Regions from separate parts of the Homo sapiens genome. Here region 2 is linked to region 1. A link means that fine-mapping ties the variant in region 1 to the expression of a gene that starts in the linked region. Tissue or cell type: subcutaneous fat. Region 1 holds a variant in brackets; the other region holds the start of a gene. All regions are shown on one strand. Distances are between the middles of the regions.

Evidence for each region. PIP is the estimated chance that this variant, and not a neighbour inherited with it, causes the effect.
Region 2: it holds the start of OFD1, and the variant in region 1 is fine-mapped to the expression of OFD1 in subcutaneous fat (GTEx, PIP above 0.99).

Annotation. Positions count from the first base shown.
Region 1 is chrX:13,775,561-13,783,826 of GRCh38, reverse strand. It overlaps GPM6B (glycoprotein M6B), which reads left to right. Exons shown (of 8, transcript NM_001001995.3): 4 at 306-462; 5 at 3,838-4,009; 6 at 6,402-6,475; 7 at 7,524-7,589. Among named protein-coding and RNA genes, the nearest start is that of GPM6B, 37 kb to the left of the region's middle. The variant G/T (reference allele first, on the strand shown) is at 4,683.
Region 2 is chrX:13,730,809-13,738,808 of GRCh38, reverse strand. OFD1 (OFD1 centriole and centriolar satellite protein) reads right to left here and starts at 4,061. Exons shown (of 23, transcript NM_003611.3): 1 at 3,726-4,061; 2 at 3,463-3,561; 3 at 2,131-2,331. The coding sequence starts at 3,737. It overlaps TRAPPC2 (trafficking protein particle complex subunit 2), which reads left to right and starts at 4,189. Exons shown (of 6, transcript NM_001011658.4): 1 at 4,189-4,284; 2 at 4,624-4,765. RefSeq lists enhancers at 3,148-3,719, 3,488-4,687.

The DNA.
Region 1 (8,266 bases):
TACTTATGTGCAAAATGAGGATTCTAACCCTTGCCGCCCAGGACTCAGGTAAGGATTAAAAGATTACAACTGGATGCTGCCCTGAGCAAAGGAAACATCATTCCCACCTTGGAAGGAAGGCCCAGGTTGCTGGGACATGGGCAGGGATGCCGCCCAGGATGCCCCACAAGTCCATCAAAGCCATCAGTGGGGCGAGTGACGCACTCACAGGAACATCCCCCTCATGTCCTCTCTCCAGCGTCCAGAAACGTAGTCACTACCAGGCAGTGAATTTAATGGTTCAGGATCTCTTCTTCTCTTTGTAGGATACAACTGATGCAGTATGTCATCTATGGAATTGCGTCCTTTTTCTTCTTGTATGGGATCATTCTGTTGGCAGAAGGCTTTTACACCACAAGTGCAGTGAAAGAACTGCACGGTGAGTTTAAAACAACCGCTTGTGGCCGATGCATCAGTGGAATGGTGAGTTGAACCTCTGATAACTGATTGTTTGATATACAACCAGAGCCATGCCTTGATGTATTTCCTTGTATTTGGCAAAAGCTACCAGGTATCGAGCGTGAATGGAGGGTCCATGACACAAATATTGGCTTTACCAATTTAGAGTTAGGACTATAAAAACCTTCAACATGCTATTGATAGTAAACTAAAGTCTATGGCTGGCAGAAATAAATCAAATGTTTTCATCAGTGTAAAGGTGAAAAGGGTGCTGAAGATTTTTCAAATGCCAAGTTCCCACTATAGAAGGAGGTAACTTTCATGTGGTCTCAGTGCTCCCCTTTGGTTGTCTTTAAATATGGATCATAGCCATAAAGACATACATGAACCATGGAAAATCGTCCTGATCCTTCTGTAAATACTTACCAGTACCTGCTGTACAGAGCGCCTAGCTGGGCTTTGCTAGCCACTAGAGGTGCAAAGATTAAAACACAGGCTGCTTTCTCAAGCAGCTTATAGTCTAAGACAGGGGTTAGCAAACTAGGGGCTGTGGGCCAAATTTGACCTACTACCTGTTTTTGTACAGCTCAAGAGCCAAGAATTTTTTTTTTTTTCTTTTTTTTTTTTTTTTGAGACGGAGCATCACTCTGTCTCCAAGGCTGGGGAGGGCAGTGTCGCGATCTCCACTAACTGCAACCTCTGCCTCCCGGGTTCAAGCGATTCTCCTGCCTCAGCCTCCTGTACAAGTCAGGGGAATGGTTACTTTTGTAGGGGAAGGAGGCAGCTGTTAAATAAAATGCCTGTGGAAAGCAGAGGGAAAATAGCCACAAATAGTGGGAATCCTCCTCCAAAGGAAAAAAAAACCAAAAACATCTCCTCACAGCTTTAAAATGACAGCTTTCCCCCTCACTTCTACCCATCAAGTTTCAAAAATAGAGGTCTAGTTTCCACCAGGGCACAGCATTAAGTCATCCACTGCCTGATGTTTAACATATTTGGATCCTTTGAGCATTGGTCAGGACACAGTACATGGTGGAGAGGAGAGGAGCTTGTTTGTACTTGAGCTAGTGGCACTTCACCTAGAGATGGGGACACTGTGAGGGATCCACAGCCCACCTAGCATGGCCCGCTTTTAGCTCTTATGTCAGATTTTGTTGGAGAAAGTCGAAAGCCCCCTTAGACTGGAGAGGAGCTTGACCATCTTGCTTGATTTCATTGCCAGTCATTCATGCGCTGTCTGCATCTCTGGCCACTGGCACCTCATGTGCTTCCGTTTCATCCATACGCTTAACAGATCACAATGCTGACCTGCCTTGGAGGGTGTGAGGAAGATGCAGGTGACGGGGCAGGGCTGAGGATGCTGGGGACAGAAACAGGACAGAAAGTCATGTGAGGTGGAGAAGGTGGATGAGATCTGCCCGCTAGGGAAGCAAAGCTGCCACTCCATCACCAAAGGCCTTTGTCTCCTCAGTCCTGTGAACCCAAAAGTATCTGAAACAGGTATCAGCCAATTTAGAAAGTTTATTTTGCCAAAGTTAAGGATGCACCCATGACACAGCCTCAGGAGGTCCGGACAACATGGGCCCAAGGTGGTCAGGGCACAGCTTGGTTTTATACATTTTAGGGAGACGTGAGACATTTATCAATGAATGTAAGATGTACATTGGTTCCGTCCAGAAAGGTGGGGACAACTCGAAGCAGGGAGGGGGCTTCCAGGTCACAAGTAGGTGAGAGACAACTGGTTGCATTCTTTTGGGTCTCTGATTAGCCTTTCATTGAATATACAATTCACATGGGAGAGGAGGGTAGAGGAATAGTCACTTATGCCTGGTCTGGCTTGGTGAAAAGACAGGGCAGAGGAAGCAATCAGATATGCATTTGTCTCACATGAGCCTCAGAGGGATGACTTTGAGCTCTGTCCTTTGTCCACGAGGAATTTCCTTGTGGGCAAATTGTGAGGGAGGTATGTAGCTTTATCTTTGTGCTATCTTGTTTAGGAATAGAATGGGGGATTTGCCTGTCGCAGTTCCCAGCTTGACTTTTCCCTTTGGCTTAGTGATTTGGGGGTCTGGAGATTTTTCTTTCGTAGTCCTGTGTGGGAGGTTTGTGCCCAGGAACTCACTGAGGAAGCAGCTCTGGACGCTAGAGGCCTCCATGACAGGGCCAGCTCGCAGCGGGGACCTCTGGGAGGGGGACAGTGGCCTTCCCTCTGGAGTCCTGGCCTCTGACAGAAGGGAAGGCTCACTGAAGCCAAGAACCACCAGCTCCCTCCTGCTCAGGTCCTGTTTTCTTTTGAAGGGAAAGAAACCTAGTCTGGAGCAGCAGTGGGAGGAAGTGGGAGGTGGAACTGCTGAAATCTGCTTCTCTGAATATTTTTGGAGATGCAAATGCTTCCTTGCAGTGCAAGGGAAAGTGTCTCGTTTCTGCAGTTTCCTGGCATTGTGACCATCAGGAGGTGGCCTCCAACCGCCCAGGTATCTCCTGCAGCACAGAAAGTTAGGGGTGACCATCAGGTCTCCACCATCAGCTTCAAAATAGAAAAGCCAAACTAGCACTCCACACCCTCTGTGGGCGCGCCTTCTGAGAACACAAATACCACGTTTTTGAGGCCGCCTCACAAAGCTCTCTGAAAAGTGGTCAAGGCAGAGGAAAGCCAAGCAACGGGATTCTATTCTTCCTGGATTGCCCATGACAGTGTGTGGGTGAACACCTGAAGCTTTTTCCCTAAGCCGTTGCTTTGCTTGCAAAGCTGCTGTGAATCTTAGAGACAAAAGAAAAGTAGAGGAAAATGAGAATTTTATAGATCGAGCATTAAGCTTGTATTCGTGATTATTTGAAACTTTTGGTAATTTTGCAGAATCAGGAAACTAGCAAAGTTCTTTTTGAGAGGGCTTCTTGTGGCAATTGCTATTCTCTGTGAGCCAACCTGTTACGAAAAATAAAGGTAACTTTTGAGAAATTAATATGAAGTTATAATTCAGTGGTATATGGAATACATCCAGAATCTATCCCATGTTAAGTAGCATGTTCTGCATTTTCAGAACGGCTATTTAGAAAGAGCACCTCTTGAGAGGCTGCCACTGATTAGCTCTGTGACCTTGGATGAGTGAGATCACCTCTTGGGGTCTCCTGTCCTTGTTAGTTAAGAGTGACCCGAAAGGCCCTGACATTGCTTCGGGCACTCCAATTCTAGATCCTCTAGCTCTGGGGAATGTGGCTGGCTCTTACTTCCCCTGCTCCCGTGCTGGCTTTTCCTTCTTGCTACCAATGCCGGGGCGAGGGTCCCCACAATGTGTTCCACAGGTCAGTATTGGGCCTGAAAATGCACAATCCTTCCACTTAGGGGACACACATCTACCTGTTTCAGTGATGATTGTCCTTCCTCTTGTTTTGGCCTAGTTCGTTTTCCTCACCTATGTGCTTGGAGTGGCCTGGCTGGGTGTGTTTGGTTTCTCAGCGGTGCCCGTGTTTATGTTCTACAACATATGGTCAACTTGTGAAGTCATCAAGTCACCGCAGACCAACGGGACCACGGGTGTGGAGCAGATCTGTGTGGATATCCGACAATACGGTACTTCCTTCTAATTCACCCCTCCCCCAGTTATTTCATTATCCTCTCGTGCATATGTCTGGACCTAATTATTACATGCGCATCCTTTTAATTGTCATGATCTGTTTCATCCCTTCTATTAGAGTAATTTTATACTTTTCCCTTCAATATGCTATTTTCTGGGTGGAAACTTCAGGGAGGCTTTTAGCTTGCTAGGTATCAAAATTTCGTTATATTTTCATGTTAAGTGTGTAGTGAAAGAAGCTTTTCTTAATATGAAACTACTTTATAATGCAGTTCAATCAAAAAAGACTTCTGGATCTCCGCTACAAAAAGATTGTATTTTTTCTTTATTTTCAGTTTTATAACATCCAACTTTCCATTCAAAATAATATTGCACACATTGTATAATTCAATTAATTTGCACATCCAACTCCTCAAATCTGGTCTTTTTAAAATGACCAACTGCTTAAACTTCATCTGTATTGAAAAATACAACATTAGATCCAGCCATATTTTAAAGTCATCAGAACATACTCTATAAATCATTATCAGCTGTTAGAAACCAGTTCAAACATTTTCTAATGAGTGAGATCCTTACAATGGGGATCTAAGGTTGGTTCATTGTGACAAACCCCAGAAGAGACCACTGGCTCCTCCTGTCAGTTAATTTGGGACTTGACTTCGCTGCTGA[G/T]TAAGAGAGGGCAGCTGAGTAAGAGGGCAGCATCCTGAGGGAGGAGTCTAATTACTGCTTCCAGCCACCATGGTAGGAAATCTTTTCTTGGCAGAAACAACCGGGGGTGGGGGGGAATAGCTTTCATCAGAATTGAAGAGGAAATAACTGTCCTTCCAGAGCTTTTCTGAAGAGAGATGACTATTTCATTTTTGCTGTTTTTCTCATGTGGCTTAGTCTCAACATCTTACCTTACAACATAATACTAAATTTGCTTGAAACTACCTATCAGACTAACCTCTTCTCACAAAGACCAAGGCTGAACAACACTGTTCTTTATGATAGAGCTAAAAACGGAGCCTAAAGTTGGCTGTTAAAGTTATTTGTAAATGAATATCTAAATGTATATCATTCTCCTATTCCTTAAAAGTAAGTGTTTTGCCACAAATTTTTGGTAATCAGCAATCATCTTTTTAAATCCTCTATATTTGCCTATTTATTGTTATAGTTACTGGTTTCACTGATAATTTGGGGTAATTTCCCATGCTTCTGAAGTATAAAGATGTACTCTTGGCCCGTGTCAAGGATGAAAGGAATAAGGATTTTTTTTCTTCTAATACTCCTTTCCTTAACCTCCTAGGAGTGTTTAATATTTAAGCACAAACTTATGCATTAAAGGGGAAAAAAAGCAGCAGCCCACTGGACAACTGTCATTGCAGAGGAGCCTCAGGGTTTAAGTGAGAGAGAAATCATAGACTCTGCTTGTCCCACCCTCTGGGGTAAAGGACAGTAGTGTTTTTTCTTTTTAAAAAATTTCCGGCCACGCACGATGGCTCATGCCTGTAATCCCAGCACTTTGGGAGGCTGAGGCGGGTGGATCACGAGGTCGGGAGTTCAAAGACCAGCCTGGCTAAGATGGTGAAACCCCGTCTCTACTAAAAATACAAAACTTAGCTGGGCATGGCGGCAGGCACCTGTAATCCCAGCTAGTTGGGAGGCTGAGGCAGAGAACTGCTTGAACCCGGGAGGTGGAGGCTGCAGTGAGCCAATATTGCAGCACTCCACTCCAGCCTGGGCGACAGAGCAAGACTGTCTCAAAAAAAAAAAAAAACAAACCAATTTGATTTTCAGTCCAAAAATATTTTCTAATACGTTTATAAGACATAATAAAAATGAATATAAAAACAAAGACAAAGTACAAATCCAGAGTTTTTTATTGGATTCCCACAAACATAAATTACTCCGTCAAATTGCCATGAAAGTTTGAGTGTATACTTGCAATTTTGGAACTTAACTCCTGGCAGACCAGTAACAGAGCTTGGACAGCAAGGCCACAGACCACAGCATTCATGAGGAAATGTATTTTGACCTCAATGTGATAAAATGCTTTATGAGGGGGTTGTCCTGCAGTAACTATAGGGAAAGCCTGGCTTTGAAAATTAATGTTTACAAATATGAACTTCCAAATGTGAACCCTCACTGAATAAAGCACAATTTGTAGGGGAAAAAAATATCAGGCTGTTTAAATCTCTTATGGACTAGTTGGCTTTGCTTTTGGCCTATTGTTCAAATGGGGCTATTTATTCCAAAATGCTTGTTCTGCAGACAGCAGATCCATCAATTCTTAATGAAGAACATAGCCTACAATTACACTGTAACTGGCATCCGAAGTGGTGGGGTCTGTTAAGAACATGAGGCGCTATAGTTTGTACTAACATCCTATTGGGGTTCATTTTACAGGTATCATTCCTTGGAATGCTTTCCCCGGAAAAATATGTGGCTCTGCCCTGGAGAACATCTGCAACACAAACGAGGTAAACTCATCACAGTTCAGAATAACCCTTGAGTATTAGGCTGAGAAAAAAGGGTTCTCCCAGCTGTAGAAAGAGCGAGAGAGATGGTTAAAATGCCATTAAGGAAAGCTCCTTGTTTAGAATCTTTAAGATAGAGCTATATGTAACCATCACTATTCAGCCATTTTTGACCTACAAAAATGGTCACTTCATATGGTCCAACACATTTGGTGAGAATCCTTAAGAAGTGGAGGGCTTTTCCTTTGGGCAATAATTTAGAGGTGATCCCAAACCTAGAAATCTAATAATATATCTAGATTCTTCTCTCACCTCTTCTACTTCTACTCTTTCTACTTTGAAAGATTTTCAAAGTAGAACACCTGTCACAGAACGGATGTAAGTTAATTTTCATAGAGGAGTCCCTCTATTTCATAGAGGAATTTGTGTATATACCCAACTTTTAATAAATGAGGCCACAGTTAATCATTTATATTTCTGGAATGACTTGCTACTTCTCTAATTCTCATTCGTCCTTACTAGGGAGTGTGTCCTAACAATTTGGTTTAAATTGTCTCAGCCCTAGAACATTCTTCAGTCATTGGCTTGTAACTGTTTATAAAGGAAAATTCTTAAATGCATTCGTAGGTGCTTGTATATTTAAGAAAATCCTGGCAAGCTTTTAAGAAGCAGTGAGTTACAGAAATAATCAGCTCCTACCCTATCTGACTTGTCAATTTGTATATCCATAATATGCAGTGGCTTGAAGCAGGGCTCCCCACCGTGGCTGCATGTTACAGCCATCAAGGCAGCACTATGTTATACTGATGGCTGAGGCCCAGCCCTTAGGTATTCAGATTTAATCGATTTGGGGGGCAGTCTGGGCATCAGAAAGTTTTTAAAGCTCCTCGGGTGATTCCACCATGAGGCCAGAGCATGAAGAGAAGGCAGGCCTGTGCCCAGTCTTGCAGAGAAGAGCTGCAAAGGAGACAGATGAAGCAGCACCCCACAATGAGTGTAGGCCATTTCATTTAACATCAAATGCTTATGTTGATGCCCTGTTCTTTTGTAGTTCTACATGTCCTATCACCTGTTCATTGTGGCCTGTGCAGGAGCTGGTGCCACCGTCATTGCCCTGGTGAGTAATGGCCCCAAGACCACCCTAGTCTAGCCTCCTCCCTCCAGCTTCTAAATGACAGATTTCCCTTCCAGCTTTTACCAGCCTATTGAAGCCAATGATTCTGGCACTCAACCTTGGTTAACTGGCGCCTGTGTTAACTTACCACATGTAGTTTACAGAAAGTATTAGTTGGTTGCCTTGGCACTGATTGTAGGTGATGTAATTTGGACTCTGGAAAGAAAAGAGGGTATCAACACCTATCAACTAGGCCTAGCATATTACCTTGTTGCACTGAGCACTTAGCTTCATGACTTCAGTCGCAGACAGATGCAATGCTCACGTGAGGCATTACCCATTTCTTTGCCAAGGGATATTAATTTACAAGTGGAGATATGCACATATACATACATTTATATAGTCACTCATACAGGGTAGCTGTGTTCCATAAAGTCACCTCAAGCAATGAATTAGCGAATGCTGGACCACTGCTCCTAGGGGAAATACATGGCTAGGTTTCTGTGAGCCTCTGGTCACATCATTTTCAGCAACCTATCAACACATAAGCTTGTTTCGTGTGTTTCTGTGTAAATACACCGTATTTAATATATATTGTTGATTCCTTAATATTGAATTCATGGCCAATAGCTCTATCCCTATGCCTGAATGAAGCTTCTCTAATGAACATTTTCTCTGGT
Region 2 (8,000 bases), 45 kb after region 1:
ATATCAGTGTTTAAATGATAAATTAGGATATGTTTCTGAATATGAAATTAAGAAACATCCTTCAGATTAAATAAGATTATAACTATGCTAATAAAGCAAATTTCAAGCTCTTTCTTACACTGTTAAATAAATTACTATAAACATATCAAGGTCAAAAGGATAAAATATCTTTATCATCTAATTAACTTCTAAGTACTTCACATCAAAGATGATATGCCTAAATGTTTAATGCCTTACAGATGACACTGAAATATCTGATGAACCAATGACTACATGACTGAGTTCCTGGGTCATTCAATTACAATTTTTTAAAAAGTATTCATTGTTTAAAAATGTAAATAGATTTTTACTGTCCTTAAAACCGTAATTAAAGTGTACTTAAAATATTGTTTAACAGACATTTTGGGTAGCTATTAAAATATATTTCTACTACAGTATATACCATTCACTATGTCTGCTCTGAGAACACTGATATTTGTTTTCAATTGGTTTTCCTTTAAAGTAAATATTCTGCATGGGCATTTTACATTAGTAGAAACCGTTAAGTTGTATGAATAGGATTAATTCCTGCTATATAATTGTATTATTGACTATTACACAATAAGTAAAAGTATAAAGTGATTAGAAAGTTAGAGAATGATGTATCAAAAATGAATTCCAGGCCAGACACGAGGGCTCATGCTTGTTATCCCAGCTCTTTGGGAGATTGAGGTGGGCAGATCACCTGGGGTCAGGATTCGAGACCAGCCTGGCCAACATGGTGAAACCTCCTCTCTACTAAAAATAAAAAAGTTAGCCAGGTGTAGTGGTGGGCACCTGTAATCCCAGCTACTTGGGAGGCTGAGGCAGGAGAATTGCTTGAACACAGGAGGCAGAGGTTGCAGTGAGCCAAGACTGCGCCATTGCACTCCAGACTGGGTAACAGAGCAAGACTCTGTCTCAAAAACATAAATTAATAAATAAATTCCTAATGCTGACAAATAAAATTTGGTTGCTTATGAAGAAATGCAAATTATTTAAGTTTTCATTCAAATACTGTACTAAGCTTGTGTCACTAAAACTTTGGAATATGAAACTTTTGGATAATTACAGAAAACACAAAGAAAGTAAAAACATATGAACACCACCAAGAGTGAAATTTATTTTATTTTTGAGACAGTCTCGCTCTGTCACCCAGGCTGGAGTGCAGTGGCATGATCTCGGCTCACTGCAACCTTCACTGTAAACTATGGCCTCTGGGTGATAATGACATGTCAGGGTAGGCTTATAGATTGTAGCAAATGTACCACCTTGATGCAAGATGTTGACAGTGGGGGAGGCTATGAGTGTGTAGGGGCAGCAGGTATATGGGAATTCTCTGTACTTCCCACTTAACTTTGCTGTGAACCCAAAACTGCTCTGAAAAAATAAAGTCTATTAAAAAAAAAAAAACACGCACATATCCACAGGGAAAGTCTGCTGTATCTGCCTTTAAAATAATAAAGTAGTACTAATGTTCAACAGTAATGGTGAAGAAATATAGTTAAAATAATTAGAAAAGTAGTAAAAAAAAAAAACAAGTGTTTTTAATATTTGAGAACTTTACAGATTTTTTAAATTACGTATTTCTCACTTATCTAATTACAAAGAGAAACATCTGAAGAAACTAGTGCAGGAAAAAAAGAGCTCATGTTAGAGATCTAGATTTACCACCCTGCATTGTCACTTAAAAGTTACTTGATGTTGGGCAAATTGATTCACCTCTCCAGAGTCTGGTTCCTCATCCGTAACACACAAAACATCTGCAGTGTGCCTATCACAGTGCCAAGCTTACAGCAGACATTCAGCAGATTGGCAGAGTCTTATTAGACAAGATAGAGGATAGATAGATCAATTATAGGTCTGAAACATTTAGAGATTCTATACATCACTGTTTTATGTGAGACTAAATGAGACGCCAAGAAATTAATTTCAAATTTAGTACCCACTTGTTATATAACAAATATATTATGTGCAGGTACAATGTGAATTCAAAGAGGAAACAGAAATGGACCTAGTCGAGGAGCACTTAGCTATCATACAGCACTTTACTGTCAGCAGAGGAAGAACCTGTTAATAAAAACTTCAGAAACAGAAAAGGAAAGACTTTACCTTTTCTTTTGCCAAACCACTTTCTGGAAAGAAAACAGAAAGTGAATATTCATAGCCACATCTTTGTAAGTGATCTGCCACTAAAGAGTTAGAGGCGCCTATTAAGAGGGAGCTCCCTTCTACTGAAATGGACCGAGGCTGCAGTTCTCCACTCAATACAGGGTGCATCAACTCATGAATTAGCTGGTTTCGAAGTTGTGTCTAGCATAAAATAAAAACAAAAATAAAAAAGAAACACAAGGGAAAGAAATTTCAGCAGGACTGTTTCATTAGAGATATACACAGATGAGCTACATTCATTGGAAACCTTCCTTCTATTTCCATAATGGTTCTAGATCCATGGCCAGAAGTTAGAAACCTTCCCCTGCACACTTTGTCTTACCCCGTGAGACAAGCAGTCCAGTGGGTTCTAGAAAAAGCTTTCTTTCCCCAGCTTCCAAATGAAACGGGTGGTTAGCCAGATCCACTTGCAGACTCATAACTTCACTTCCCTAGAAGCCCATTTCAGCAGCTTACGATTGGGATATTAAGTATAGGAAAAAATTCTGCCACTTCATCACACCTCTGTGGACTGTTGGAGAATATAACCAAAATATTCAACAACAGGGGACTGCTATATACATTACAAAAATATCCAAAGATAAGCCTGTTGCCACTGAAAATGAAGATTTCAAAAAACTTTTAAGGAAACAGGGAAATGCTCACCATATAATTTAAATTAAAAAAGGATACATACACAGGATATAGCTACATATTTTAAACGTAAAATATGCTTTTGAAATGCATATTTCAATGAAAACACGTTGAGCTAATCCTACTCCTGGCTGTTAATCCAAATATAAAGCATACTAATAGGTATTTTCTGCCCAAACTAAACATTCATACATTTCAATATAGTTTAAAGATAAAATTTTTCATTTCCCAAACTATTATTAAGCAGTACACTAGTATTTTCTATATGGTGTCAATGTCCTTCATCCAAATGTATTACAAACCCACTTATTAATTTAGGAACCTATAAGCCATATTTATAAAACAAGCCTAATCTTACTGTGTTCATTATACAAATATTTCCTTCTCCTATCTTATTGTCAGTTCAATTAATTATTTGAATATGCTCCTTTAAGACGACTCAAACTCAACATTTTCTCAAACATTTTCAAGAGACTGTAATGTTTCAGGATACAGAGTTATTCGGGAATATAAAAATGTAATTCACCAATACAATCTATGTATCATACGATTATTAAAACCTAAACCTTGATTGAATTTGAACTACCTGTTACAGGTTACACTTGTAAAAGCTGACACAGATACGCCTAAATCCGATACCTTGAGTGTATCCAGTATACCCCGATCCTTAAACGTCTGGTATAGCTTTTTGCGCAGTTCATCTTGACTCAACACATCAGCCACGGTAAACATGTTGGACTAAAAGACAAAATGGTTATAGGTTACCTGCGGGGCAGAGGGAACGTGAACGTCTGAAAACAGACCAGTGGCCTCCGGGGAAGCCATAAGAGGCCTAGCGGCGAAAGTTTAACGAACACAAAACAAGACTTTATTTCCGCCCGAGAAGGGGCAGGTGTGTCTACCTGCGCCATCATCAGGCGTCAGCTCCCTCCGGAGCCCGCCTCGCTCGCCCCGCCGCGGCCCGAGTTTAGTGCCCAGCCCGGGCGGTGGGGCCAAGACGAGGGGGAATCCCTGCCCTCAGAACCCTGCCTCTGTCCCGAGGGTTCGGGAGGAACAAAGGTGCTGAACGTTCTCTGCCTCGCACTCCCAACTAGGTTTTCTAGCAAACACGCGAGCTTCCTTTCTTCGCGGTTCTGAGGCAAGGGCGAGGACCCAGGCACGACTCAAAGGCGGCTGGAGGGCGGGGACCCAGACACTAGGGACTGAAGGCAGCGAGGCAGGACCGCCTCACAGCCAGTCCGGCAACTTCCGGAAACCTGCTAAATATAGCCTTCCCGAGCTGAAGAGCTACGGCGCATGAGCTTGGTTGCCCAGCACCGGCCGGAAGCTCCGCCTACGTATCGCGAGAGCACATCCCAGGGTATCGCGAGAACTGCTTCGGCGTTCTGGCTACAGGTTCGGGGCGCGGGTCTCTTCCGCGGAAACTGACATTGCGTTTCCGTTGTCGGCCTCCCACTGCAGGTAGGGAATGGAGCAAGTGCGGCGGGGGGCGGGTGTTTTGAGTCCCTGGAGGACTTCGTAGCCCCTGCGTGACGCGGATGTTGGTCCTGTACCTCCACCCCTCCCCGGGGTGGCCGGGCCGGACCTGCCAGCCCTCCGCTGGCTCATCCGCGCAGCCCTTCCACCTGCAGACGTCCGCCCTCTCGGGGGCTGTGGTTTCGCGGTTCACTGGGTCATTCAGCTAACCCAGGGTTTCTTAACGGCTGCACTGTTGCCTTTTGGAGCCGGAAGATTCTTTGTTTTGGGAGGCTGTCCTGTGCATTGTAGGTTTAGCTGTATCCTTGCTCTCTATTTTGTCAGTATCACCTTCTCCCCCAAGTGTGACAACCAAAGATGTCTCCAGATATTGCCAGATGTCCTCTTGGAAGCAAGATCGCTCCGGGTTGAGATCCACAGAGCTAAACGTTTTAGAGTACCAACCATTGTGTGCTGTGAGGTAAAGGTGAGCCAGTCCTCATGATGCTTAAATGTAATTAGAAAGGAAAGGAACCAAACCTCTCAGAAGCGATAATGAAAATGTTACAGCCAGAGAATTGAACAAGAACTAAGATACATTGTAGACTGGATAAAGAGTTTAAAGGGGAGGTGGTTGAAGATGGAAGTGATCCAGATCATCTCTGTGGAAAAAGTGTGTCTTTATCGGGGCCTTGATGGGTAGGATTCGGGTGGTGAGCAAAAAGGAGAACATCACAGGAAGGGGAAAAATGAGCAAAGGAATCATTAAAAGAAAAAAAAAAGCCACGACCTTCTTGGGAGCAGTGAGGAATCTAGCCTGACTCCAGAGTTGTGTGCTGGGAATATAAGCCTTATATGGTATCTAAGTCCTGTGAGGACAGAATTGGATGTCAGCTTTGTGTACAGCATTGAAGATGAGTACGATGAGTTTTGATCTCTGGCTGTGAAAAACTTAAAGTATTTAAGAGGCAGTAAGAGTGACAGGACTTCATAGGAGGTGGAGAACCTGTAAGTTTTTGTTGGAAACAATGGAAAAGGAGGAGAGGCTTAGTTGGATTTTAAAGGATGGGTAGTGGTTGCAGACAGAATAAAGGAGAACATTCCAGGCATGAAGAGAGAAATGATAGTAGCTCTGAACTCGATATAGTCAAAGTGAATTTGGGAGAAAAAATAAGTAAACGAGTCAACGCTAGCAGAGGTGGAACAATAGGGCTGAGAAAAGACACGTGGAGCAATGTGGGAATCTTGAATACTAGTACATGATCCTGTAGCTGAGATGCATCAAAGGCTTTTGAGTGGAATGATGAAAACAGTGTTCTAAAAAGATGTTGATATGTTGTAAATGTTGTTAAGTAGAATCACTTGTCCACTGTTTAAAAAAAAAAAATGTTCCTGAAGACCCCCTTACTCCCACCTCCACCTTTGGTCCCACAGTTGAATACATGAATATAATTAGATAAAATGTTCTCCAAAAACTAGCATAACTTCTAGGGGAGGGAGAATTGCTTATAATATTAATAGAAAAATGTCACATTAAAGACCTATCAGTAGTATTCCTACTGCCCCTCCTCATTGTAATAGACATGTCCCATGCCATACCAGTTTAGTCTCATGACCCCAGGTTTATGGAACAACTGAAATCACTGCTCTCGCGAGCACAGGGCAGTTTTTCTAGAAGCTCTTCTATAGAGGTTGTAAAGAGGCATGCTACAAAAATGGATGTCTTTGGAACTGGAGTCCATGAGTTTTATCTTGCATTTGTCTACAACTTAAGAGACTTCCAAGTTCACTGAGCATCCTCCCACTCTGGCACTGTTGGTGTTCCACCCACCCCTTAGTTTCTAGTTTCCCAGTGACTTCAAATGAGCAGCCCTGGGCTTGGCCTATGGAACGGTTTGGAATAAGTCTGTGTAGTCCAGAGTCAGCAAATACTTGGCCCTCCTGTAGGTACTGCACTTCCCCAAATTCATAGCAGACATGGATAATTGATCACAGCATTCTTTCCTGGTGACCACATTTAGTCTCAGAATCTTTCTCAGCGCCAGTTCCTGGCAGTCACTACCAGTTGATTAGAATTCGCTTATGAAAGGAAACTCATTTGCCATCCCTAGCCAAGTCCCTTTTTCATTAGATAGCTTATCGTATTTAAAGATAGTACTGTGCTGTACCCCACTCCCTTTCCACCCCAAAAAGGTCTCCCCTACTCCGTTTAAACATCCTCTGTTACTTCAGTTGCTCTTGTCTGGTTTCCAGAGCATTTCCTAGCCTAGATCCTGCCCTCCCTTCCCCTGTAACACACAGAGTTATTGATCCTTTTACAATATGATTCCCAGAACTGAGTACCTTCCCCAAAGATGATAATATTATTGAAGAGGACATCAGCATTCTCCCTGACCTTGCTCTTAATGCCACCTAGAATTGATTAGCTTTTTTGACAAACCTATCAGACTTTTGCCTCTTACTGAGCTTGCAGAACTTTTGGGTTGATGTAGATGAACTGTTCTTAATCTAGGTTTCCCTTGTCCTTTTGTACAGTTGATTTTTAAGCCCAAGTACAGGGCTTGCTTTCTTATCCTCTTAACTTCTATCTTGTTAATTTCACCTTACTCTCCTAGCCATGGAGATCTTTTTTAATCCTAACTTCTGCCTTCTAATAAGTTAGCTGCCCTTGGTGTTATCTTTGAATGTGATAAGTTATCTTCATTCAAGTTATTGATTCAAATACTGAGCTAGACTAGGTTAAGGTCAACCTCAAAGCCTTACTAGAGACCCTGTGCCATAAATTGACACGGAGCACCCAATGTTCTCCGAGTATTGACACTCAAGTCGGCTATGAGCCATCCCTCATTCAGCAAATAATGAGTGCTTTCTGGGTCCCTGGCACTGTTGTAGCTCTAGGTATACCATAGTGAATGAGACGAATGGTGTATCTGCTCTCATGGAGGGCAACATTCTAGCAAGACTGTATTTTCACTCAGGCTCCAGGACTCCAGTTTGTTCTTAGGTAGATACCAAAATATTTCGTAAAATGACTTTCTGTTTACCTACCGTATCTCCCTTCAGAAACAAAAAATGTAAATTTGGTATGACTTGTTCTAGTACAACCAGGAGTATATGAATGAATAATCTGTTTTTATCTAGGGATTCACATTAAATGAGTTAATGTATAATAAAAGTGCCTGGCATGGCATCTGACTGAAAATAAACATTTAATACACGTTTCTGTTGGTGTTCTAGTCGCTCTGAATGTACCCTGTTATAGACTAGGAGATAAGCCTTTTTCCTGTTTCTGAAAATAGGAATAGCATTTAACCTAGCGGATGATATGGCATTTTTCTTGCAATTTCTCAAATGTCACTGATCAGCAGTTATGCAATCACATTTGTTAATCCAAGGTATATAATTTGTCAGGACCTGATGACTTGGATTTATTGAAATGTCTAGATGTTTTCTTTTTTCTTTAGTTATACTTTTAAGTTCTAGGGTACATGTGCACAACATGCAGGTTTGATACATAGGTATACATGTGCCATGTTGGTTTGCTGCACCCATTAACTCATCATTTACATTAGGTATTCCTCCTAATGCTATCCCTCCCCCAGCCCCCCACCCCCTGACAGGCCCCAGTGTGTGATATTCCCTGCCCTGTGTCCAAGTGATCTCATTGTTCAATTCCCACCTATGAGTGAGAACATGCAGTGTTTGCTTTTCTGTCCTTGTGA